Linked DNA regions of Homo sapiens: regions 1 and 2 are each linked to region 3. Evidence: fine-mapped expression QTL. A gene starts in region 3. Each other region holds a variant in brackets. All regions are shown on one strand. Distances are from middle to middle.

Evidence for each region. PIP is the estimated chance that this variant, and not a neighbour inherited with it, causes the effect.
Region 1: its variant is the best candidate, but not a certain one, in a credible set for the expression of TAF1B in whole blood (TOPMed, PIP 0.51).
Region 2: its variant is the best candidate, but not a certain one, in a credible set for the expression of TAF1B in spinal cord (GTEx, PIP 0.72).

Annotation. Positions count from the first base shown.
Region 1 is chr2:9,932,156-9,940,339 of GRCh38, forward strand. TAF1B (TATA-box binding protein associated factor, RNA polymerase I subunit B) reads left to right here. Exons shown (of 15, transcript NM_005680.3): 15 at 1,628-2,261. The coding sequence ends at 1,829. It overlaps LOC105373422 (a long non-coding RNA gene), which reads right to left. Exons shown (of 3, transcript XR_922784.4): 3 at 7,283-7,681. Among named protein-coding and RNA genes, the nearest start is that of GRHL1, 15 kb to the right of the region's middle. RefSeq lists silencers at 888-1,093, 6,101-6,440. The variant A/G (reference allele first, on the strand shown) is at 5,009.
Region 2 is chr2:9,587,576-9,595,759 of GRCh38, forward strand. It overlaps YWHAQ (tyrosine 3-monooxygenase/tryptophan 5-monooxygenase activation protein theta), which reads right to left. Exons shown (of 6, transcript NM_006826.4): 3 at 3,817-3,940; 4 at 590-753. Among named protein-coding and RNA genes, the nearest start is that of ADAM17, 36 kb to the left of the region's middle. The variant ATCT/A (reference allele first, on the strand shown) is at 4,812.
Region 3 is chr2:9,838,623-9,846,806 of GRCh38, forward strand. It overlaps TAF1B (TATA-box binding protein associated factor, RNA polymerase I subunit B), which reads left to right and starts at 4,852. Exons shown (of 15, transcript NM_005680.3): 1 at 4,852-4,937; 2 at 6,598-6,696. The coding sequence starts at 4,920. RefSeq lists a silencer at 5,133-5,212.

The sequences.
Region 1 (8,184 bases), 94 kb after region 3:
AGCCTACTTCTGTCAGCTCGTCAAAGTCATTCTCCATCCAGCTTTGTTCCGTTGCTGGCAAGGAGCTGCAATCCTTTGGAGGAGAAGAAGTGCTCCAGTTTTTAGAATTTTCAGCTTTTCTGCTCTGGTTTCTCCCCACCTTTGTGGTTTTATCTACCTTTGGTCTCTGATGTTGGTGACCTACAGATGAGGTTTTGTTGTGGATGTCCTTTTTGTTGATGTTGATGCTACTCCTTTCTGTTTGTTAGTTTTCCTTCTAACAGTCAGGTCCCTCAGCTGCAGGTCTGTTGGAGTTTGCTGGAAGTCCACTCCAGACCCTGTTTGCCTGGGTATCACCAGTGGAGGCTGCAGAACAGCAAATATTGCTGCCTGATCCTTCCTCTGGAAGCTTTGTCCCAGGGGGCACCTGCCTGTATGAGGTGTCAGTCGGCCCTTACTGGGAGGTGTCTCCCAGTTAGGCTGCACGGGGGTCAGGGACCCACTTGAGGAGGCAGTCTGTCTGTTCTCAGAGCTCAAACACCATGCTGTGAGAACCACTGCTTTCTTCAGAGCTGTCAGACAGGGACGTTTAAGTCTGCAGAAGTTTCTGCTGCCTTTTGTTCAGCTGTGTGCTGCCCCCAGAGGTGTAGTTTACAGAGGCAGCAGGCCTTGCTGAGCTGCAGTGGGCTCTGCCCGGTTTGAGCTTCCTGACCGCTTTGTTTACCTACTCAAGCCTCAGCAATGGTGGACGCCCCTCCGCCTGCCAGGCTGCTGCCTCGCAGGTCAATCTCAGACTGCTGCACTAGCAGTGAGCAAGGCTCCGTGGGCGAGGGACCAGCTGAGCCAGGCTCAGGTTATAATCTCCTGGTGTGCCGTTTGCTAAGACCATTGGAAAAGCGCAGTATTTGGGTGGGAGTGTCCCGATTTTCCAGGTACAGTCTGTCATGGCTTCCCTTGGCTAGGAAAGGGAAATCCCTTCCCAGGTGAGGTGATGCCCCGCCCTGCTTCGGCTCACCCTCCGTGGGCTGCACCCACTGTGCAGCCAGTCCCAGTGAGATGAACCAGGTACCTCAGCTGGAAATGCAGAAATCACCCGTCTTCTGATCATGCTGGGAGCTGCAGACCAGAGCTGTTCCTGTTCAGCCATCTTGTAACGGAAGGCTTTCCTATTTTAAAATAATGGAAATTGCTTGGTAAACTCTTCTCTCACAATACATATAGTATTGCAAGCTACATTATAAAGTCTAGTGTCTTATTTTGGGTGGAAGTCAGGAATTATTTGTTTTCTTTAGTTTGTTTTAGAAATATGTTCAGAATCTCTCCCTGTGTGCTTTTGTTTGCCTTGACCATGGTAAGAAAGTGGAGTGGTGGCCCATCTGGAGTGAAGAAACTTTGAGCAAAGAGTTGAAGGACCAGCTCTTAGCACCACCTGTGGCCCTTGTGTGGTGGCCATGGACAGTGTGAACATGTTTTCCTTTGTGCAGTTAAGGAGTTAACAAATTCTTCTAAGTTTCCTTCCAGCTCAGGGTCCTGTTTTAAGCCTAACCATATATATTTGCTAAGTTATTTGGGGGGATGTTCAGGGGTTAGTGTGTGCATTTCTTGGTTACCATCTAAAGATAAATTCTTTTTTCTTTTTCCCTTCTAGCTATTGTACACATGTGACAACCTATGAAGAATCAAATTATTCTCTGAGTTATCAGTTTATACTAAATCTCTTCTCCTTCCTGCTCAGAATAAAGACTTCCCTTCTCCATGAAGAAGTGAGCTTAGTTGAGAAGAAACTTTTTGAGAAAAAATACAGTGTAAAAAGAAAGAAATCAAGATCCAAGAAAGTGAGACGACATTGAGAAAATGAAATAGAAACTTTCTGGAAAAATATTTTAATAGTGATAATAACATCAGATTTTAATATAACATTCCAGAGAATTGTGGAAAATACTGCATATATATGTATAGACTCTGACACATATTTACATATATATCAAGTGTGCTTAGAAAAATGTATATTGTAAAGCAGGTGAGCTTCATTTGATTTTATTTTTCAGAGTATGAACATTCTAAGAGAAAGTTAAAACAATAGCAAATTGTATAATTGTATCCAGAAATGTATACTCATCGTATTTTAAAGCTAAATTTATTTTTTAAACTAGATCCCTTCATTATTCTTTATGCCCCAGAGTAAATCCCAGATGGATCAAAGATCTAAACATAATCTTTCATATGTAAAAATATAAAAGTATTAGTAGAAAACAAATATGAATGCTTTGATGATCTTGGAATGGCAAAGTCAATTTTTGCAGCATATGGTGGACAAAGAAATAATTTCTTTAATGTATCAATAGCTCTTGCAAAGCAAAAGGAAAAAAGCAAACTGAGTAAGGGATATGAAAAATTAGTTTTCTGAGGCCGGGCGCGGTGGCTCACACCTGTAATCCCAGCACTTTGGGAGGCCGAGGTGGGCGGATCACGAGGTCAGGAGATCGAGACCATCCTAGCTAACATGGTGAAACCCCGTCTCTACTAAAAATACAAAAAATTAGCCGGGCATGGTGGCGGGCGCCTGTAGTCCCAGCTACTCAGGAGGCTGAGGCAGGAGAATGGCGTTAACCTAGGAGGCGGAGCTTGCAGTGAGCCGAGATTGCGCCACTGCACTGCAGCCTGGGTGACAGTGCAAGACTCTGTCTCAAAAAAAAAAAAAAGAAAAGAAAAATTAGTTTTCTGAAGGCCAAGCCAAAAAACATCATAGGATACTCGACCTCACTTATACTCAAGAAATACAAATTGAAATGAATACTGTTTCCCACATACTGGATTGGCAAAGATTATAAAGATGTGTAAAACCTGGTATGGACATTGGAAAATCAGGCATTCTTGTTCTGAGTTCATTTATGCATGCAACAGATAGCAACTCCTGTGTTCAGGCATGTTCTAAGCACTGGGGATACAGCACTGAACAAGACCCCCACCTTTAAAGATCATAGGTTCCAACTAGGTGAAAGCTGATAGTAAAAATATATATTATTTTTGAGGGAATTAAGTACAATGAAGAAAAAGCAAGAAAAGATAAATGATAAGGTAGGCCATTTTTTAAAGGGCGGCTGAGGGAGGATCCTCTGGGGCAGTGGCATTAGAGCAGAGACCAACTTGCCTGGAACACAGTAGCACGAGCAGCCATGCAGCCATCCAGGGGGAGATCAGCCCAGGCAGAGGAAAGATGTGCAGAGGTTCTGAGCAGGGGCATGCTGGATGCAGTCAAGGACTGGCAGGGTGTCCAGAGTGGCTGGAGCACTGTGGATAAAGGGGAGAGGGAGAGCAGATGGGCAGGTGGGATGGTAGAGGTTGCTCTGAGGTCACGGTAAGGATGACCTTACCACGGTTGGCTTTTTTCTCAAATGTCACAGGAAGCCACTGGAAATTTTTAAACAAAAGAATGATGTGATCCAACGTATATCATAAAAGTATCACTGACTACTCTGATGAGTACACCGTAGTGGGGATGTGAGCAGTGGTTAGAGAGTTCATTTTGAATTGAATGTATTTTGTTACTCTCTACCTGTTTCACTTATTGTAAGGTTTTCTTTTTTCTTTTCTTTTTTTTTTTTTTTTTTTTTTTTTTTTTGAGACAGGGTCTTGCTGTGTCACCCAGGCTGGAGTACAGTGGTGTGACCTTGGCTCACTGCAGCTTTGACTCCCTGGCTCAAATGCTCCTCCTGAGCCTGACTAGCTGAGACCACAGGCATGTGCCATCATATCCAGCTAAATTTTTTATTTTTTGTAGAGACAGAGGTCTCAGTATGTTGCCTAGGCTAGTCTTGAAATTCTCGGCTCAAGTGATCCTCCCACCTCAGCCTCCCAAAGTGCTGGGATTACAGGTATGAGCCACCACGCCTGGCTGACTACAACTTTTAATATTTTTTAATTTTTGCAACTTTTTTTTTTTTTTTGAGACAGAGTCTCACTCTGTCGCCCAGGCTGGAGTGCAGTGGCACGATCTCGGCTCACTGCAAGCCCCGCCTCCCGGCTTCATGCCATTCTCCTGCCTCAGCCTCCTGAGTAGCTGGGACTACAGGCGCCCACCACCACGCCAGCTAATTTTTGAATTTTTAGTAGAGATGGGGTTTCACCGTGTTAGCCAGGATGGTCTCGATCTGACCTCGTGATCCACCCGCCTTGGCCTCCTAAAGTGCTGGGATTACAGGCGTGAGCCACCGTGCCCAGCCTAATTTTTGTAACTTTTTATAATGAGACTTACACATTGATTTAAATTATATACAGGATGCTCAGCCAGCACAAAGCTGTGGTGAGATTTGGGCCCAAGTCTCCGACTCCAGATTCCAAACCACATTAAAAAAAAAAAAATCACCTGCAGACTGCCTATAGCTTTAACAGTCTCTGTCTCCCCTTCTTCACATCCTTCCGGTGGAGAAAAGTTTGTGAATATTAAGTAAATTTGATTCAATAGACATTTTATTTTTTTGTAAAGATGATGGGGTCTTGCTATGCTGCTCAGGATGGTCTTGAACTCGTGACCTCAGGTGATCCTCCCACCTCTGTCTCCCAAAGTGCTGGAATTACAGATGTGAGCCACTGCGCCCAGCCTGGTTTGGTAGTTTCTTAAAAGTGAAAATTAGACCTACCATGTGACCCAGCCATTCCACTACTAGGTGTCTACCCAAGAAAAATAAAAGCATGTTTCCACACAAAGACTTGTATACAAATATTCATAGCAACTTTATTTGGAATAGCAAAAAAAAGGGAAAACAACCCAAACAGCCATCAGCAGGTGAATGGATAAACACATGGTGGATATCCATACAATGAAACACTGCTCAGCTGTGAAAAAGGAACAAACTATTGAAACAATATCCCTGTTCAGGAGCAGGATTTGGAGAATATAAGAAGCATATCTTTTATAATTTAAAAACTTGCTTTCTAAGATTTGAACTGAAAGATCTTTTTTGAAGATGAGTGTCATGGAATTGACATGATTTGAAGTGTTATGGCACTTCCTTTGAATAAAAAAATC[A/G]AAGTTGCTAACAAGTTCCATGTACTTAAAAATATTGGGACAGAGCGCTCAAAGCTATGAAAAGTTTTGGGCCACCCATGAATATGAGATAAGATTAACAAGAGAGGAGAAGGAAGTGAAAAATATGGCTTTCCATGCATTTCCAATTGTATGAATTACCATTGAAGGCTAGTGATGAAATGTTACTCTCTAGGAGTCAGTGTTTTCACATCTAAAAATGGTATCAGTCATAGAAAAAGCTTATCTGTCTACTGCCAAAAAGGGAAGAGGGTAATAGCACGTATTGAGCACCTACTGTATATTCAGATGAGGTCCTGCCATACGAAATTCAGTCCCCACTGTTCTGGGGGCCATGCAATCGTCTTTAGATAATAGGTGTGGGGCTAGGGGTTCCGCTGTGAAGTTACCTTCCTTCCCAGGGTGCTCAGCCAGCACAAAGCTGTGGTGAGATTTGGGTCCAGGTCTCAGACTCCAGATTCCAAACCACATTTAAAAAAATAAAATCATCACCTGCAGACTGCCTATAGCTTTGACAGTCTCTGTGTCTCCCTTTCGTTTGCATCCTTCGGGTGGAGAAAGGTTTATGAATATTTTAGTAAATTTGATTCAAAAGACATTTCTTGATTATCACATTGGTTCTCAAAGTGTGGTCCCTGGACCAGTGACATCAGCATTACCTGGGCACTCATTAGAAATGCACATTCTCAGGCCTACTCCTGACTCCCAATCCAGAAACACAGTGTGGGTCCAACAATCTGTTTTAACAAGTCCTCTGGTTCGCTCCAGGCTCCAGGGTGGGACAGTCACTGGTGCTTCTGCTGGCTGGGACAACAGGGCCCCACTGTGGAACTTGCAGCCCGTGACCCCCTCCTAACGGCTCCTCTCAGTTCCCGTGGTCCCAAAAGCCCTCTGTCCCGTGCAGGGCTGCCCCACAGTGGCCTTCCACATCCTCCTGATAGCAGAGGCCCCCGCCACCCCCAGGGCCACCTCTGCAGCTGTGCCGCAGCTTCTCTGCCCAGGCACCTGCACTGACACGGAGCACCCTGTAGGTTGTCTGCTTGAGGCCTTTACCTAAATGCTTGCCGCAGCTGTTTCTAAACTACAAAAGCACACAATCATGAAATGAGGCAGAGGTGGGCTGAGTGCCACAATGGATGCCAAGAGGAAGAGAGATGGACATGGCGCTGGGAGGCTCTGGGCACCACTGGAGGGGGGCGCTGAGTTCCCGGGCTGCCCCGGCTGGGAGAGGAGTCGAGTCTTAATCTCCTTTAAGGAAACATAATAAATAAACTACTTTGCCACTAGAGTGATTTATGTGTTGATTTGGGTGGAATCTCTTTCATGAACACATTTTATGTCTTTTTAAAAAAATTAGATTATTTCTTGGCCAGGTGTGGGCACAGGGTGGCTCATGCCTGTTATCCCAGCACTTTGGGAGGCCAAGGTGGGTGCATCACTTGAGGTCAGGAGTTGAAGATCAGCCTGGCCAACATAGTGAAACCCTGTCTCTACTAAAAATACAAAAATTTGCTGAGAGTTTGTGGCAGGTGCCTGTAATCCCAGCTACTTGAGAGGCTGAGGCAGGAGAATCGCTTGAACCCAGGAGGCAGAGGTTGCAGTGAGCTGAGATCATGCCACTGCACTCTAGCCTGGGCAACAGAATGAGACTCCATCTTATAAATAAATAAATTAGATTTCCTACCACTACAGTGAAGCATAATTTTATGATTTAGGCAACTACCCTAAAGGGAAATAAAACTAAGTGAGATTCCACATGGTCTCAGTAATACCTGTAGTGCAAAATCAAATGCTTATAGGGAGTGAAACAGAATGCGGCCGATACCTGTGGAAAAGAGTGCTTCAATTGTCTTATGTCTACGACCAGCCTAAGCTCATAGCCATACAAATATATATACCATACATGTGCTGAAACTAAGTTAAATTTCTTGTTTTTAATTGTCTTAAGTATCAAACTTGGATCATCAGAACATGTTGGAAAAACACGGCTCTGAAGCCAACTTATTAAGCACCTGTGCTGTATCGAACATTTTACATTTGTTCATTTAACATATCTAGATAAATCTACTCATTTACAGCTATAGTGATCCAAGATTTCATCACAGCAGATTAAAACAAAACCTTTAAGTTAAAAATAATTTAAAATCAGTGAATATATTAATACTATGAGAGTCTTTGCCTATGAGAATACAGAACTTTGGCCCAAATGTTTCATTAATCTACAGGGTTATATACATTTGGAGCACAGTTTTGTTGTTTGTTTGTTTGTTTTTAATCCTCTTCCCAAAAATGGGTTTCTTTAGGCAGCTCGAGACTCCTGTGTTAGACAAGAGGAAAAGGAGTGGGTGCCTCTCGACTGGGACCAGTGGACATTATTATGGGAATATACCAGTGGTGGCAGGTTGATGACCTTATCTCCCTGCAGGGTAGTATTTCTCTCTGGGCTCTCAGCAGGTCTGCCTGTCACTGCCACCCAGAAGTGGAGCCACCTTCTGAAGCCCAAACCGAGGAGGGAGAGCCCAGGGTCCTCTGAAGCCCAAACCGAGGAGGGAGAGCCCAGGGTCCTCAGGCGCCTCGCAGCAGGAGGCCAGGAGTTCACCCACAGTGTCTAGTTCCTTGTTATCTTTCTTTTTCCCTCCATTGGCACAAAGCCACCTAGAAAAAAAAAGGAGTATTAATTCATCCCTCTATTCACACAAGAAGACAACATATTGTTTAAATAAGAAAGGAGCATGATTTCCCGAATCTTCAGCAAGACCTTGAATACAGTTTCCAAAGTAGGCCTGCTGTAAAAGTTCTGTGGATTATTATAAACTGCAGGTAGTTAAGAGTGTGTGTTTTTATCTTGAGTATGTAGCTGGTGACTTTTTAAAAAAATTAAAATGCCTCTGTGTTCCTGAAAGCTGAGTAAATTCACACAGTATTAAGTCTCTCACAAAACGAATTCAAGCAGCTCTAAGTGTATGTTCCCTTGTTTCGTGCCCTTGTGAAGTATTTAAGCATAAAGAGCTTTAGTGCCAGACTTACCTGATAATATGCTATGACTTCAGAAGAGCTTACAAAAGAGTGCTTTTATTGACTTTATAAATTAAGAACCTGGTATTTCAGCTCAGTTGGCCTTCTGCCCTTCTGAAACAATCATTCCCTTCTGGGACAAT
Region 2 (8,184 bases), 250 kb before region 3:
AACCATTTTTACAAAATAAGTGAACACCCACCTTATGTTCTACCATCAACAAACTCAACAGAACCATTCTCTCACACTCCCAGTTTAAGAACTTATGAGTATGACTGGAATTTTATAAAACTATACACTTAGTAAACAAGCATGTCTTGGTTCTTTCACAGGACAACGGAACAGCAGCAATGCTTAACAGACTTCTTTCCAGTTAAGTAGTACTTATCTCTACAGGGTCCTCTTTATTCTCTCGTTTTGAGCCACTTTGAGGAATGTGGCTGATGCACAGCTATTCTAGTAACCAAACCTGGCAGGCATGACTTTCTAATCTTTTATGTTTCCTTCTTAACATCATTTATCCTTCTTTGATTACTCTGCTCAGTATGCTCTGTAGGCACATCACTGCTTATAATCATAGGGTAGAGTAAGGTGTCAGGGGTAGGAGTAGGTAATCATGATGGGAAGAAAAAGAGGAGATTTCAAAATAAATATAGTAGAAATCATCCCTGGGTATCCAAGTAAAATACCTATAAATTAACATACCTGGTATCTCAAATAACTGTAGCTAAAGTACGTATTTCCTGGACACACATCTTACCGTTTTAGCCAGCGTGCAGGCAAGCTCTGGGTTATTAAGAATCTCATAGTAAAATACAGAAAAGTTAAGAGCAAGCCCCAGGCGGATTGGGTGTGTGGGTTGCATCTCTTTCTTGCTTATATCAAATGCCTCTTGGTAAGCTCCTTGGGAATTATCTATCGTTTCTGTGAAGAGCGAAAAATAAGAAGTGCAATATTAAAAATAACCATCCAGTACACAGTACATTAACAACTTGAACATATGCTACTAGCTCTTGGTAGAACCAAGATTTTTTCTCTGTATGGGTCTTTTAAAATCATGGTAGCTAACAAAAAACATTATCGTGGCCAGGCGCGGTGGCTCACGCCTATAATCCCAGCACTTTGGGAGGCCGAGGTGGGTGGATCACTTGAGATCAGGAGTTCAAGACCAGTCTAGCCAACATGGCGAAACCCCATCTCTACTAAAAATACAAAAATTAGCCAGGCGTGATGGCGGGCATCTGTAATCCCAGCTACTCAGGAGGCTGAGGCATGAGAATCGCTTGAACCTGGGAGGCTGAGGTTGCAGTGAGCCGACATCACACCACTGCACTCCAGCTTGGGCAACAGAACGATACTCTGTGTCAAAAACAAACAAACAAAAACAATATTGTGTACTGGGTATTTAAGAACTTGTTTATGGCCAGGTGCAGTGGCTCATGCCTCTAATCCCAACACTTTGGGAAGGTGAGGCAGGGGGATCACTTGAACCTGAAGAGTTCAAGACCAGCCTGGGCAACACAGGGAGATCTTATCCCTGTCTCTACAAAAAATAATAATAATAAAAAATAGCTAGGCATGGTAGTGCGTGCCTGTAGCTCTAGCTACTTGGGAGGCTGAGGTGGGAGGACCCCTTGAGCCCAGGAGGTTGAAGCTGCAGTGAGCCAAGATCATGCTGCTGCACTCCCAACCTCAGTGACAGTTTGTCTCAAACAAACAAACAAAACAAAAAACCAGTTTAGAATGTTGCTTACATATAAACAGCTTAATGGAAAAAAAACATGAGATATTATAGTAAATCAGACTTTTTTCCATACCTAGGCTAAAACTATTTTCTTATTTTATGTCTTTTAATTCTATTACTTGGAAATGCAGCAATTAAAAATAATTTGACTGGAATAATTTACAGTGGCTCACGCCTGTAATCCTAACACTTTGGGAGGCTGAGGCAGGCAGATCACCTGAGGTTGGAGGTACAAGACCAGCCTTACCAACATGGAGAAACCCCGTCTCTACTAATAATACAAAAATTAGATGGGAGTGGTGATGCATGCCTGTAATCCCAGCTACTTGGGAGGCTAGGCACAAGCCTCACTTGAACCCGGGAGGCGGAGCTTACGGTGAGCCAAGATCGCGCCATTGCACTTCAACCTGGGCAACAAGAGCAAAACTCCATTCAAAATTAATAATAATAATAATAATTTGACTGGAATACCCTTTCCCTAAATAATGTAAACTTTACAAAGATCATCAACACCAAAATCTCTATTTTTCTGATTTGCAGAAATACTGATTCTTAGTATCAAGTGGTATTATTTGAAAGGCAATATAAAAGTTTCAATAAATAGGACAAAATCTGCTCTGACCAGAGTTTGATTACTAGCCTAATTAAAATGTTACTCCCCCTTCAAAAAATGTTCAGTATTACCAACACTAATCTGATTATACCCATGTTTTGAAAAGGGTAGTTTTCTGTATGAGGCCACTGGCCTATTACAGCTTTAGAGATACTGACGTAAGAGAATTAAGCTATCCCTTTATGACCTGAATTATGTTCATTTTCTTTCCTCTGAAATGGCACATTTATTGATCTAATCCCTGACTGGTACAGCCCACATGCAATAAGAAGTTCTTGCAGCTTGGCAAATTAGGAAGCACCAGTGTCTCAGCAATTAGGCTATAAAGACAGCCTATCTATGAATCGCAGCCTATCAGAATGTACACAGGACTACGTGTGAGACCTGAAAGTGCCAATGAGCTCCTAAGGGTTAAATCAGGTTAAAGCTACAGCTATGTCTCAATCTCCCAAATACTTCTCTTTGGCTTTCTGATACTTAAATGTACAGTTCCGTGCCCGTATCATGTCCAATTCTGCTTACCTTCATGGCAACAGAAATTACACATCAGTAACAGAATAAGTAAGTTTAGTATATAGATTTTGTTATAGCAAGGTATAACAGTTTCTCAGGTACAAGTTCTCTTTATATATTCAGTTACACTGATATTTAGGATGGCAAAACTCTCATTTTCAGATCATAGTAACTATTTGTAGGGGTATATCTTTGTAGACAGGGCAAAATTAAGAACAAAACAACAAACTTACTGGAAAAAATAAGGACTGACACTTCTAATACCTAGAACTTGATAAATCTGGTAGCAAGCACATACACTAAATTTAATGAGATCTATCTTATATTCAGCTGCCAGTATCCCAAGAGACATTCACTGCAAATAAATTCACTTCACTTTTTTATTATCAAGTTAGGCAATTCGGTCACTTTTTCTCATATCCATGTTTTCTATGATAGTCTAGGTTAAAAAAAAAAGGTATTTAATACTAAAATCTATTTTTATGACCACTACTTGATTAATCAACAGTTCCTGTATATTCAACCTTCTCAAGTAAAACCTAACCATGAGTCATTCAAACTTACTGTGAAGTTGGAGCAAGTTATACACCAGCAATAACACACTCATTTCACCTCTCCTCAGAAATCTGATTATATGTAATTAGCAGTCAATGTTATGACCCCTTAAAATAGACGATAATGAATATGACAAACAGCAAAAGCACAACAACCTGTTTCCACGTTCTGTATGTAATTTCCAGTGATCTGAAGTTTTAAGGCATAATAGAAAGGCCATGTGAAATGCAGAATCACTCATAAAGTTTACACAAAAAACTCTGGAGCTAAAAATATGGTGAACCAAAATTCTAAAAAGCATAAAAGATTAATCCTGTTTTAAATAATACCATATGAGATTACAGAGTTCACAGATGAGCTTAATTTTTTTAAAGAGCATGTGATGTAAATTTATAATCCAATTTTCATTTTTGAGAACATAAGGTAATACTAATTTTCTTGACATACATTCAATTATTAAGTCACAAAGAGCCTGAAGACTACGTATACTGTCATAGTGTCCCATTTATCCCCATTTCTTTTTTTTATATTCTACTTTTGCCCATATAACAAATAAACTTACGTTTTCGATCATCACCACACGCAACTTCAGCAAGGTACCGGAAGTAATCACCCTTCATTTTCAGATAGAAGACCTTACTCTCTGGATTAGTTGCATTGGCTATTAAATATTTATCCAACAATTCCTGAAATAAATAAGACAGAACATTAGGCACTAAACTTCTGCCTACTGTGCATTATCATTAAATGATAAAACTTCTGCCTAGCGGGCATTTCAATCATTTACTACTACAGTAATACTATACCATACCAGCCTGGACTTGAAGCATGTTCTTAGAGCAGGGGTTAGGTTGTTGCCACTAGTTGCCCTGGGAGGCTTTAAATGATGTAGCCTATAGTTTCTAATGGTAAGGCTAGATTCTAGATTACACCAAACATTGTAATTTGAAACAGCCTATCTGTTCACTCATCCATTCATTCAACATTTACTCATACCTGCTAGGTGCTATAACGGATATAGAGAAGACTTAAAATCAGGCCCCTGCCCTCAAGAAGCTCACCGTCTGTAAGTACACCAACTACATACCAAGAACTAAGAAAGATGTGAATACGGTGCTAAGGAAGCACACAGATGGAGTAGCTCTGCTGGAGATGGCCTCCAGTTAAGACAGGCTTCCCAGGGAAAGAGTATTTGAGGCATGAAGAAGGAAAAGTAGAAATGCACCAAACAGAAAACAGGGATGTGCACTCATTTTAGGGACGGGAAACAAAATGTTTAAAACATCAAGTACGAGGGAGAATAGTGCTACTCAGTGCCCTTTGCATTCAAGTATCCATCTAAAATGAGGTAAATACAGGAATCGAGAGTAAGAGGTTTAGAAACTTGCACAGCAATTTAAAAGAATAATTTTAGGTCTACGAAATCTAATTATTTTTTTAAAAAAGTTCTTGAGTATGTCTTTTGTCCCTAATTTCATACAAAGAAATTTTCACTTCTAGTACATGGTATGCTATGCCTTGGAGTATAAAAAGTCACAAAAGACAAATATGATAGAA[ATCT/A]TCTTAGATTCCATTTTTCTTGATGCTAGGTCATCCATTTAAAAACCTTTTTAGGGCCGGGCGCGGTGGCTCACGGCTGTAATCCCAGCACTTTAGGATGCCAAGGCGGGCAGATAACAAGGTCAGGAGTTCGAGACCAGCCTGGCCAACATAATGAAACCCCGTCTCTACTAAAAATACAAAAAATTAGCCAAGCGTGATGGTGGGCACCTGTAATCCCAGCTACTCAGGAGGCTGAGGCAGGAGAATTGCTTGAACCTGGGAGGTGGAGGTTGCAGTGAGCCGAGATCATGCTACTGCACTGCAGCCCGGGTGACAGTGTGGACTCCATCTCAAAAAACAAAAACAAAAACAAAAAAAGCTTTTTTGTATTAAATATTACAAAGCAAAATGAAATTCTCATAAAAATGTTAAGATACTAATACCTACTTCATTGGTTTGTTTTGAGAATAAAACCAGTAACAGATGTCAAAGCCTGGAATAGTGTCACATGTTAAGTACTCAGTAAATGTTAGCTAGTATCAGCCTAGGTACACAGTTTGAAAAGCACTGCTCTAGGAAAAGTGAAACTAGTGAACGTTTTAAAGCAGGGAAGAGAGAAGATCCTTTTTACATTTTGGAAAAATAACCACAGATACGCTCAGTTAATATTATATAAAATACCATCCATGATACCAAGTTGGCAAGTCTGGAGAATTAACAAGTAAGGTTGAGTCAAATTCACATAACTGCTAAAGAAAAGGAAGGCTGTTTATAAATTTAAAAATATACAATTCTAACCAAGAACTTTCTTCTTGTTTATCTGACTAAAAGTGGTCTAACAAAATGCAATCACTGCATCCATGTCTTTTTTTTTTTTTTTTTTTTTGAGACAAAGTCTCACTCTGTTGCCCAGGCTAGAGTGCAGTGGTGATTCTCAAATGATTCTCCTGCCTCAGCCTCCCGAGCAGCTGGGACTACAGGCGCACACCACCACGCCCAGCTTACTTTTGTATTTTTAGTAGAGACAGGGTTTCACCATGTTGACCAGGCTGGTCTCAAACTCCTGACCTCAAGTGATCTGCCCACCTCGGCCTCCCAAAGTACTGGGATTACAGGCGTGAGCCACTGCGCCTGGCCCATAAGTTATTTTTAAAGAAAATAAACAGAGGCTGCGTACAACAGCTCACACCTACCATCCAAGCACTCTGGGAAGTAGAGGCAGAGGCAAGAGGATTGCCTGAGAGCCCAGGAGTTTGAGACCAGCCTGGGCAACATAATGGGACCCTGTCTCTACAAAGAATTTTAAAAAAATTAGGTGTGGTGGCATACACCTGTAATCCCAGCTACTTGGAAGGCTGAGGCAGAAGGAAGGCTTAAACCCCGGGGGTGGAGGCTGCAGTGAGCCATGATCGTGCCACTGCATTCCAGCCTGGGAGACAGAGCAAAAGAGATCCTGTCTGTCTCTAAAAGAAAAAAACCAGAAAAACATTAAAAATCCTTTAATTGAAAAAATATTTTAAATAGATTAAAAAAAATATATATATATATATATACACACACACACACACACACTTTTTTAAGGGCCTGAGGCCAGAGGAAGTTAAAACACACACACACACACACACACACGCACGCACAAAAAATTAGTATAAAATTATGTATCGAAGTCTCAGAAGTTTATGCATTATAGAAGTCATGAGTATCAAAATTGTGGCTCAAGTTGGAAAGTTGCTGAGCCAGGAGTGTGGCAAAAGAGGTCATTAGGGCCACACCCAAATTAAAGGCAACTGTGACAAGTGCTGCTCCAGTATCACTACACTCTTAACTGTAAAAACAACAGACAAATCAGTTTTTCAGAATTTATTGTGCTCAACATCACCAATATAATTTTAATAGTTTTTTAATAAACTGAGACACTCGAATCTTAAAAAATTATATTACTTTAACTTTTTCCTCTATTACCATTTTCATGTATTATGGATGACTTTCAATTTAAAAACTATTTTTATGAACTGAATTTAGGGTTGTGGTGGAAGGAGGAGGGTAGGAGGCAATAGTGAGATAGTCACAAAAAAAGTTCTAGATCTCAAACTGACTCAGTCATTGGTATCTTTAAATGAGTGGATTCTGAGAAGTAGTATCAAAGAAGGCAAACATAGTATTTATACCGAGAGAAATACCACCTCTGCCTGTACCCACACCAAGGAACTCTAATGTAAAGTAAGATGCCTCTCACTTTTCTTGTTCCTCCAAGTGAGTCAGTCAGTTACAATGAAATTCCACAGGATCTCCAAAAAGATGCCAGCTCTGGTGAAGATATTATTTATGGTCACAAAAAAAGCTACTCAGTACCTTTAAGACCTAGTGCTCTGTTAACTGTGGTAGATTTGTAAGAGCAGGGGCTGAGAAAAGTCTGACTAGAACAATGGCTTAGGGTGAGGAGTAGGGAAGAGAGAAATTTCCATTCTAGCACTAGTCTCTCCTGAGTCACTCATGCTAGATGTGTGGGTGTTCTCAAGGACTGTGGACAAAGGGCCTTCCAAGGATTCAGAAAGCTGCCAAACAGCTACTGCATTCATTACAACACAGCCACTTATGAGCTAACCTCTTCTTTCTAAAATTATTAACTTTGACTACTAGTTTGCATATAACCATTACGTATGATTTACAGTGTTGGGCTTTTACAAAGTGACTTGGGCATTACTTCCATCCTGGAGTTTCAGCCAGGTATCATGGTTCTTTGTCAGATGCCACTAGCTCTCTGTGAAGGAAACAACAGGTACAGAATAGTTCCGTCTTTCCATATACTATCAGTAGTAAAGATGTATACTTTAGCTCAACTAAAAGACATAATGGAGTCTGCTTCATGTCTTTCCCAAATAATCAAGTCTGTATCTGTATTATCAATACCAAATATTATTAATGCCAGATAGAATATAGCCTATAAATGTATAATATTTTAAAATTATTGTAAAAAACACGGATCAGAGACCAAAAACCCCAAACTGACACATAACTCCCTGAAAGTCTTTCCCAGAAGTCAGGAGCGAGGGCCAGGTGCCGTGACTCATGCCTGTTATCCCAGCACTTTGGGAGGCCGAGATGGGTGGATCACTTGAGGTCAGGAGTTCAAGACCAGCCTGACCACCACGGTGAAACCCCATTTCTACTAAAAATACAAAATTAGCCGGGTATGGTGACACATGCCTGTAATCCCAGCTATTTGGGAGGCTGACACAGGAGAACTGCTTGAACCCAGGAGGCAGAAGTTCCAGTGAGCTGAGATATTGCACTCCAGCCTGGGCAACAAGAGCAAAATTCCATCTCAAAAAAAAAAAAAAAAAAAAAGTCACCAGACGGGAGTATAGTTAGATGTTCCCCCACTGAT
Region 3 (8,184 bases):
GACTGCCTTATCTTTATATTTATGATTGCAAATGTCAAGTAGGCCCTCATGCTGCTTGCAATTTTTGCTAGATTCCTGATTCCATTCTTCCATTTCCAAGAGTTATTACACCTCTGGTCTCCTCTCAAACTTCCCACAGCCCTCCCCACTCCCACTCTCAACTGATGACTTGCTTCCATTTCAATGAAGCTCAGAGAACAGACCTTCCACCTCATGCACCTGCGCTGTCCCACGTGCTCTCCCTTCTTTCCTGGTTCTGCAGCAGATGAACCCTCTATGCTAGGGCTGACCCCTCCATGGTGCTGCAGATCCTCTCCCTTCTCACGCACTGCATTAGTCTGTTTTCACACTGCTGATAAAGACATACCCGAGACCGGGCAATTTACAAAAGGAGGAGGTTCAAATGGACTTATTCAGTTCCATGTGGCTGGGGAAGCCTCACAATCATGGTGGAAGGCAAGGCCTTGACCTCCTAAAATCCTGGGATTATAGGCATGAGCCACCAAGCCTGATCTAATTTGTACTTGTCTGATAAGTAATGACGTTGCGTACATTTTCATATATTTATTGACCATTTAGCTGTTATCTTTTATGAAATACCTGTTCAAATCTTTTTGCCTATTTTTAACTGGATTGTTTATTATTTCTTAATAGATCGGTAGGAAACCTTTGTTACATGTCTTGTCGAATATGTATTGTGAATTTCTTCTCTCAGTTTTTAGTTTGCTTTAATTATGTCTTTTTTTTTTTAATTTTTTTTAAAGACAGGGTCTCTGTCACCCAGGCTGGAGGGAAGTGTCATGATCACAGCTCACTGCAGCCTTGACTTCCCGGGCTGAAGCAATCCCCCCGACCCAGCCTCCTGAGTAGCTGGAACTACAGGCATGCCCACCACACCCAACTAAGTTTTAAAAAAATTTTGTAGAGATAGGATCTCTCTATGTTGCCCAGGCTGATCTTGAACTTCTGGGCTGAAGCAATCCTCCCACCTCGGCCTCTGAAAGTGCTAGGTTCTAGGCGTGAGCCACTGTGCTCAGCCTAACAATGTCTTCTGATGAATCGAAGTTCTTAATTTAATGAAATCCAGTGTAATGACCTTTTCTCTTAGGAGTAGTGCTTTTTGTGCCCTGTTGATGAAGTCTATTCCACACCAAATCATAAAGATATTTACCACTTTTTTTTTCTAGAAGCTTTATGGTTTTACCTATCACATGTAGGATCTATTTGAATTAATTTTTGTGTACAGTGTGAGAAAGGGGTCAATAATTTTCTCATATGCATGTCTGATTGATTCAGAACCATTTATTGAAAAACTATTCTTTCAGCTCACGCCTATAATCCCAGCACTTTGGGAGGCCGAGGTGGGTGGATCACTAGAGGCTATGAGTTCGAGACCAGCCTGGCCAACATGGCAAAATTCCATCTCTACTAAAAAATACAAAATTAGCCAGGTGTCATGGCACATGCCTGTAGTCCCAGCTACCTCTACTTGGGAAGCTAAGGCCCGAGAATTGCTTGAACCTGAGTGGCAGAGGTTGCAGTGAGCCGCGATTGTGCCATTGCACTCCAGCCTGGGCAACAGAGCAAGACTCTATCTCAAAAAAGAAACAAAGAAAAAGGAGAAAAGCTATTCTTTCCTCACTGAATTTTAGTAGCAGCTTTGTTGTAAATCAGATTATTTTATATGTACTTATGAGTCCGTTTCTGGACTTTCTATTCAGTTCTGTCAATTTTTTGGTCTATCCTTGCATCACACTAGATTACTGTATGATTTATTTTTTTCTCTTTTATTTATTTTTTAAATCTTTATTCTTTTTTCTCTACTTTTTCTTTTAACATTTTTTAATTTTGAGAAAAGGTCTTGCTTTGTCATGTAGGCTGGAATGCAGTGGCGTGACCACAGCTCACTGCAGCCTCAACCGATCCTCCCACCTCAGTCTCCTAGGTACCTGGGACTATTGGACTGTGCCACCACACCCAGCTAATTTTTTAATTTTTTGCAGAAATGAGGTCTCATTATGTTTCCCAGGCTGATCTCAAACTCCTGGGCTTAAGTGTTCTGTCCACCTTGGCCTTCCAAAATGCTGAGATTACAGGCTCGATGTTAAACAAACTTGCATTCCTAGAATAAACCTAACTTGGCTGTGATTTATTATCCTATTTATATATTGCTGAGTACAACAGGATGTACATTCAATTTACTGATGTTTTGTTTGGAACTTTTGCATGTATGTTTATGAGAGGAATTGCTTTTTAATTTTGACTTTTCTTGAAATATCCTTGTCAAGTTTTGGTGTCAAGGTCATGCTTGTCTCCTAAAATGTACTGGTAAATGCTCTTCTTTTTTCATTATTTGGAAGCATCTGTATAAGATGGGTGTTATTTATTTCTTTTTAAAATTATTATTATTATTGAGACAGAGTCTCTCTCTATCAACCAGGCTGGAGTGCAATGGCATGATCTTGGCCCACTGCAACCTCTGCCTCCCAGGTTCAAGCAATTCTTGTGCCTCAGCCTCCCAGGTAGCTAGGATTACAGGCGTGCAACACCATGCCCAGCTAATTTTTGTATTTTTAGTAGAGACGAGGTTTTGTCATGTTGGTCAGGCTGGTCTCGAACTCCTGGCCTCAAATATTCTCCTGCCTCAGCCTCCTAAAGTGGTGGGATTACAGGCGTGAGCCACCATGACTGGCCTATTTCTTTCTTAAAAATTTGGTAGAATTTGGCCAGGCGTGGTGGCTCATGCCTGTAACCCCAGTACTTTGGGAGGCCGAGGTGGGCAGGTCAGGAGTTCAAGATCAGCCTGGCCAATATGGTGAAACTCCATCTCTACTAAAAATACAAAACTTAGCCAGGTGTGGTGGTAGGCGCCTGTAGTCCCAGCTATTTAGGAGGCTGAGGCAGGAGAATTGCTTGAACCTGGGAAGCGGAGGTTGCAGTGGGCTGAGATGGTGCCACTGCACTCCAGACTGGGTGAAAGAGCAAGACTGTCTTAAAAAAAAAAATTGGTGGAATTTTCACATTTATTGGCCTAGAGTTGTTCAGAATATGCCCTTATGATCTTTTTAATGTCTGTGGTATTTGCAGTGATGCCCCTACATATTGGTTAGTGATGCCACTGATATCAGTTTATTTTGATTTTCTTTGCTCCGTTGCTCAGACTGGAGCACAGTGGCCCGATTATAGCTCACTGCAGCCTTGAGCTCAAGCAAACCTCCCGTCTCATCCTCCCAAGTAGCTAGGACTGTAGGTGTGCATCACCAAGCTGGGCTCTTTTCTTTTTGATCAATCTTTCCAGAGTTTATCGAATGTATTAGTATTTTCAAAGAGCTAATGTTAGTTGGTTGAGACTCTCTTCTTAAAAAATATCTTTTAGGCTGGGCGTGGTGGCTCACGCCTGTAATCCTAGCACTTTGGGAGGCCGAGGTGGGCAGATCACTTGAGGTCAGGAGTTCGAGATCAGCCCAGCCAACCTGGTGAAACCCCGTCTCTACTAAAAATACAAAAATTCGCCAGGCGTCGTGGCGCGTGCCTATAATCCCAGCTACTTGGGAGGCTGAGGCAGGAGAATTGCTTGAACCTGGGAGGTGGAGGCTGCACTGAGCTGAGATTGAACCATTGTACTCCAGCCTATAGAGATGAGGACTCAATATGTTGGGCAGGCTGGTCTCCAACTCCCGCCCTCCAGCAATCTGCCCGCCTTCGCCTCCCACAGTGATGGGATTACAGGCACCAGCCACCACAGCAAGCCTTTGTGGAGCCTATCGAAGCTTGCTTTCTCTTTTATTAATTTCTCTTTTTTAAACATTTCCTTCATCCCATTATTTTTCAGTTTAATCTTTTTTCTAACTTCTTGGGATGTACGATTATATCAAAAATCCTCTTCTCAATGAGATCTCTCTTGAACATCACATTTCAGACTGAAATCACCTTGTTGTTCCCATTCTCCTCTCCTCTTTATTTTTCTCCTTGGAACTCACCACCACTTAACATACCACATATTTTCCTTATTTATTTTTGTCTCTCCCCATCAGAATACAATCTCCATGAAGGCAAGGACTTTTGTTTACTTTGTTCACTGCTGAATCCCCAGGACACAAACCAGTTCCTGTTTAATAAATAAAACAAGGAATGAATGTGTTAGATGAAGAAACAATAAGAGCTAAATTTATTGAGCACTTACTGAGACTCAATTATATTCACTCATGCATTTATTTATTCAGTTATTTACTTATGCAGAGAAGGGGTCTCGCTTTGTTGCCCCGGCTGGTCTCCAACTCCTGGCCTCAAGCAATCCTCCCGACTCAGCCTCCCCAGGATTACAGGCGTGAACCAGCACGCCCGGTGGAGACTCAATTATAAGGGGCTCACAGATAACATCTAATTCTTACAGAGGAGTAAACTGAGGCACAAGTAAGCAGGAGAGCCGTGATTAGAAACCTAGGTCTAACTCACAGCCCGTGAGCTTTCCTCCAAGCCCCGAGGCTTCCCCTTAAAAAAGCCAGCAAGGGGCGAGACTCGGAGGGCAGAACCCACGGAGGGCGGAACCCACAGAGGACAGAGCCCGCGCTCGCGAGCACGGCCTTGTCCGACCCCCCGTGCCGCCGGAGGAGCAAGTCTGTCTTGGAATGAATGATCGTCGGAACGGAGCTTGATCAAACCACTCAGCAGTAGGCGTCGCCCACTTTCTTATTGGTTGGTTTTGGTTCTCAAGAGTAGGAAAGTTAGGTAGTCCGCGAGGGGTCTGCGAGCTTTGCGGAGCCTCGCCCCCGAGCGCGCGGTTTCCCTGCCGCGCAGGCGCACGGAATCCTAGGCGCGGATCTCGCGTTTCCGGCCGGAAGCTTCTCCAGCCTTTCCCGGAAGCTGCGCTCGCTACCCGGGTAACGGGTCCCGGCTGTGGAAGCTCCCGCGGCGCCGCGATGGACCTCGAGGAGGCGGTAAGGAGGCGGTGCACCTGGCGGGCCACGATCGCCGGGGCCGGAGGAGAGAGAAGCTGAGGAGGAGCGGCGGAGGACGCCGCGGGTTGGGGCGGCGACGCCACCGGCTGGAGGAAGGCGGGGCGGAGGGCTGCAGGGCGGGCTAAGGACTGGGGCTGGCCGGCCGCATGCGCGCGCGGCTTTGGTAAAGAGGCTGGAGTTTCTGGCTCGGCGAGGTTGTGGGGGAGGGAGGGTGTGGTGTTTGTCGTTATGGGTGTGTTTAAGGATGAAGCTGTGGGTTTTGTGGGGTGGCCACCCACAGGGCTCATCCTCGAGACTGGACCACCCACAAGTTCCCTTTAATGCTGGGGTGGGTGAGGGAGGGGCAGGGGTTGGAACCTGAGATGCCGCCGGGTAACCCCTGTCGGTCTCTCCGGGAATCCTTGCCACTGTCTCCAGCAGGGATTCTAAATTCGGGTTTGGGAACTCCCCAAATTGTCCAGCTATCATTCATCGTAGTGTTAGTACGGGGTCACTGAACACTTTACCAAGTTGCCAAAATTGATTTGGCATGCATTTTGTTTTGTTTTAGGTACTACGTAAAATGGCACATTTTTGTTTTTTATTTTTGAGACAAGATCTCACTTCTTCCCCCAGGCTGGAGTACAGTGGCACGATCACGGCTCACTGCAGCCTCGAATCCTGGGCTCGAGAGATCCTTCCGCCTCAGCCTTCCAATGAGCTAGGGCTACAGACATGCACCACCAAGCCCGGCTAATTTTTTTTTTTTTAATTTTTTGTAGGGGCAGGGGTCTCGCTATGTTGTCCAGACTGGTATTGAACTCCTGGGCTCAGGCGATCTTCCTGCCTCAGCCTCGCAAAGTGCTGGGATTATAGGGGTGATCCCCCGCCCTCGGCCAAATGGCACACGCTTTGATGGTATTAAATGATACTCGATAATTAGATCAATGCTAACAACAAGTCAAACTCCAAAGAGTTGGGGATCAGAGAATTAGGCCTGTATATACAGGAGCAGTACGGTCTTATAGTAGAGGCTTAAAAAATGTTTACTGATGATGGTTGGCTAACTTCTGTAAATGCTAGGCTGATGAAATGAATAATTGTAACTCACCATTAGCTAGCGTATACCCAGACTAGGGATCATGTCTGGTCTGTTTTGCTCACCATTGAATCCCCAGCACCTAGTAAAAAGCCTGGTACACACATAGTTGATACCCCTTATGCTGCCGAGTGAATAAATCGAAACTTGAAACCATTACAAATCTAGTTCCTCTGTGGTATGCGCTTTTAGTGTCCTGGAGGAGTTCCAAATTGTATTTGCATTTTTTAAAAGTCTTCTCTATACTTGTTTGTCATCTTCTCACAGTATTTTCAAGGAGCTTTGTTTACTCATCTTTGGTTCCAGTTTACCCCTACTACCTCCTTTTCTTTTTTTTTCCTGTCACACTGCATATTTCAATAAATTTTCTCCAGTAGTTTAATTCGGTTTCATACCGCGCCTCTCCTTGTTTGCGGATAATCTCTCTGACATATTTTTTATTGTCTATGATTTTTTATTAATAAAGTTGCCAGGAACCCATTAAATAGAACTGCAAGGTTTAGGTACGATGTATTGAATGTGGCTTGATGGGAACACCTTTTCTGTCCTCTTCTCCCATAGGAAGAGTTTAAAGAACGCTGTACTCAGTGTGCTGCTGTCTCATGGGGTCTTACTGATGAAGGCAAATATTATTGCACTTCTTGCCACAATGTTACAGAGGTAAGTAACAAATATCATTTATGAATTTGCTTATGTTTTAAAAATTGCCATTTCAGCCTGATATGTAGTCTAAGTCCCAAAGAATTGGGTTGATTTTTGTCACTCATGCAATGCCAACATTCCAAGGATGCATGTGGTCTTAGGTACTTACACATAGGTTAAGGGATTTGTGAATTAGATTGAGGATGAGTTTTTGAAATTATGTTGGGCCACATTTATAAATGATTTCTTATTCAGAGTATGTGGTTGAGGGAAATAATTAAAATTGTACTTAGAAGATGATGCATTTCTTTTTATCAGTTAGTACTTATTTACATTTTTTTAAATGTGTCATGGTGGCTTAGAGGTTTGGAAGATGGAATGTTAGAAAACTTGAGGACTGGGCCGGGCGCAGTGGCTTACGCCTGTAATCCCAGCACTTTGGGAGGCTAAGGCAGGTGGATCACCTGAGGTCGGGAGTTTGAGACCAGTCTGTCCAACAATGGGAAACTCCGTCTCTACTAAAAATACAACAATTAGCCAGGCGTGGTAGCATGCGCCTGTAGTCCCAGCTACTTGAGAGGCTGAGGCAGGAGAATCGCTTGGACCCAGGAGGCGGAGGTTGCAGTGAGACGAGATCACGCCACTGTACTCCAGCCTGGGCAGCAGAGCAAGACTCTGTCTAAAAAAGAGAAAGAAAGCTTGAGGACTGTTGGGAATATTGGAATTATTCTTCGTTATCCTTTTACCTTTGTATAGTACCTTACAGATTACAAAGTTTTTGGATCCATTATCTCATTTCCTCCTCATCACTAACTGTGAGAGCCTATTGATAGGGCTCAGAAGTTGAGTGAGTTTGCCAAAGTTACCCAAGTACCAGGACTTGAATGTGAGTCTTCTGACTTCAGTGTTCATTTTACCCATCACACCTGCCTCTTAAAGTAGAGATTGTCATATTGTCCTGTGTAACCTTGGTAAACGAGGCTACCTTCACATTGTGAGTGCTAGGTCCTATTGTGGTGAACACACCTTCGGGCCAGCATCACCAAAGTGATCAAGGGTGTAGAGAGTCTGCTGCTGGACAGGCTAAATGTGCCAGGACTCTCCTCAGTGGAAAAGGATTTCCTCAAAGTCTACAGATCCAGGAAGGAACAAATGTTACCTTCACCATACAGGCTTAAGAAAGGCAAATTTGGGACATTAAAAGTAACTGTGTAGACTTCTGCTTCTGGCTAAGATGGACTAACAGAGACCAGACTTACCTTTGTCCCCTAAACAATGAAAAACCTGGACAAAATATATTAAATGAGTAAAAGGAAAAACATTTTCCCTTGACAAAACTGGTGAATTGAGCTTGCAGGTGTGTCACACAAGTGCTTTTCCTTGAGGCAGTGTTCTTGAGTCTGCAGCTGGAATGCTTATCTCTGCTTCCTGTTTAGTCATACAGAATATTAAAAAGATATGTGCTCACTTGATGAAATTGTTGGGGTGATGGAGATATTTATTATC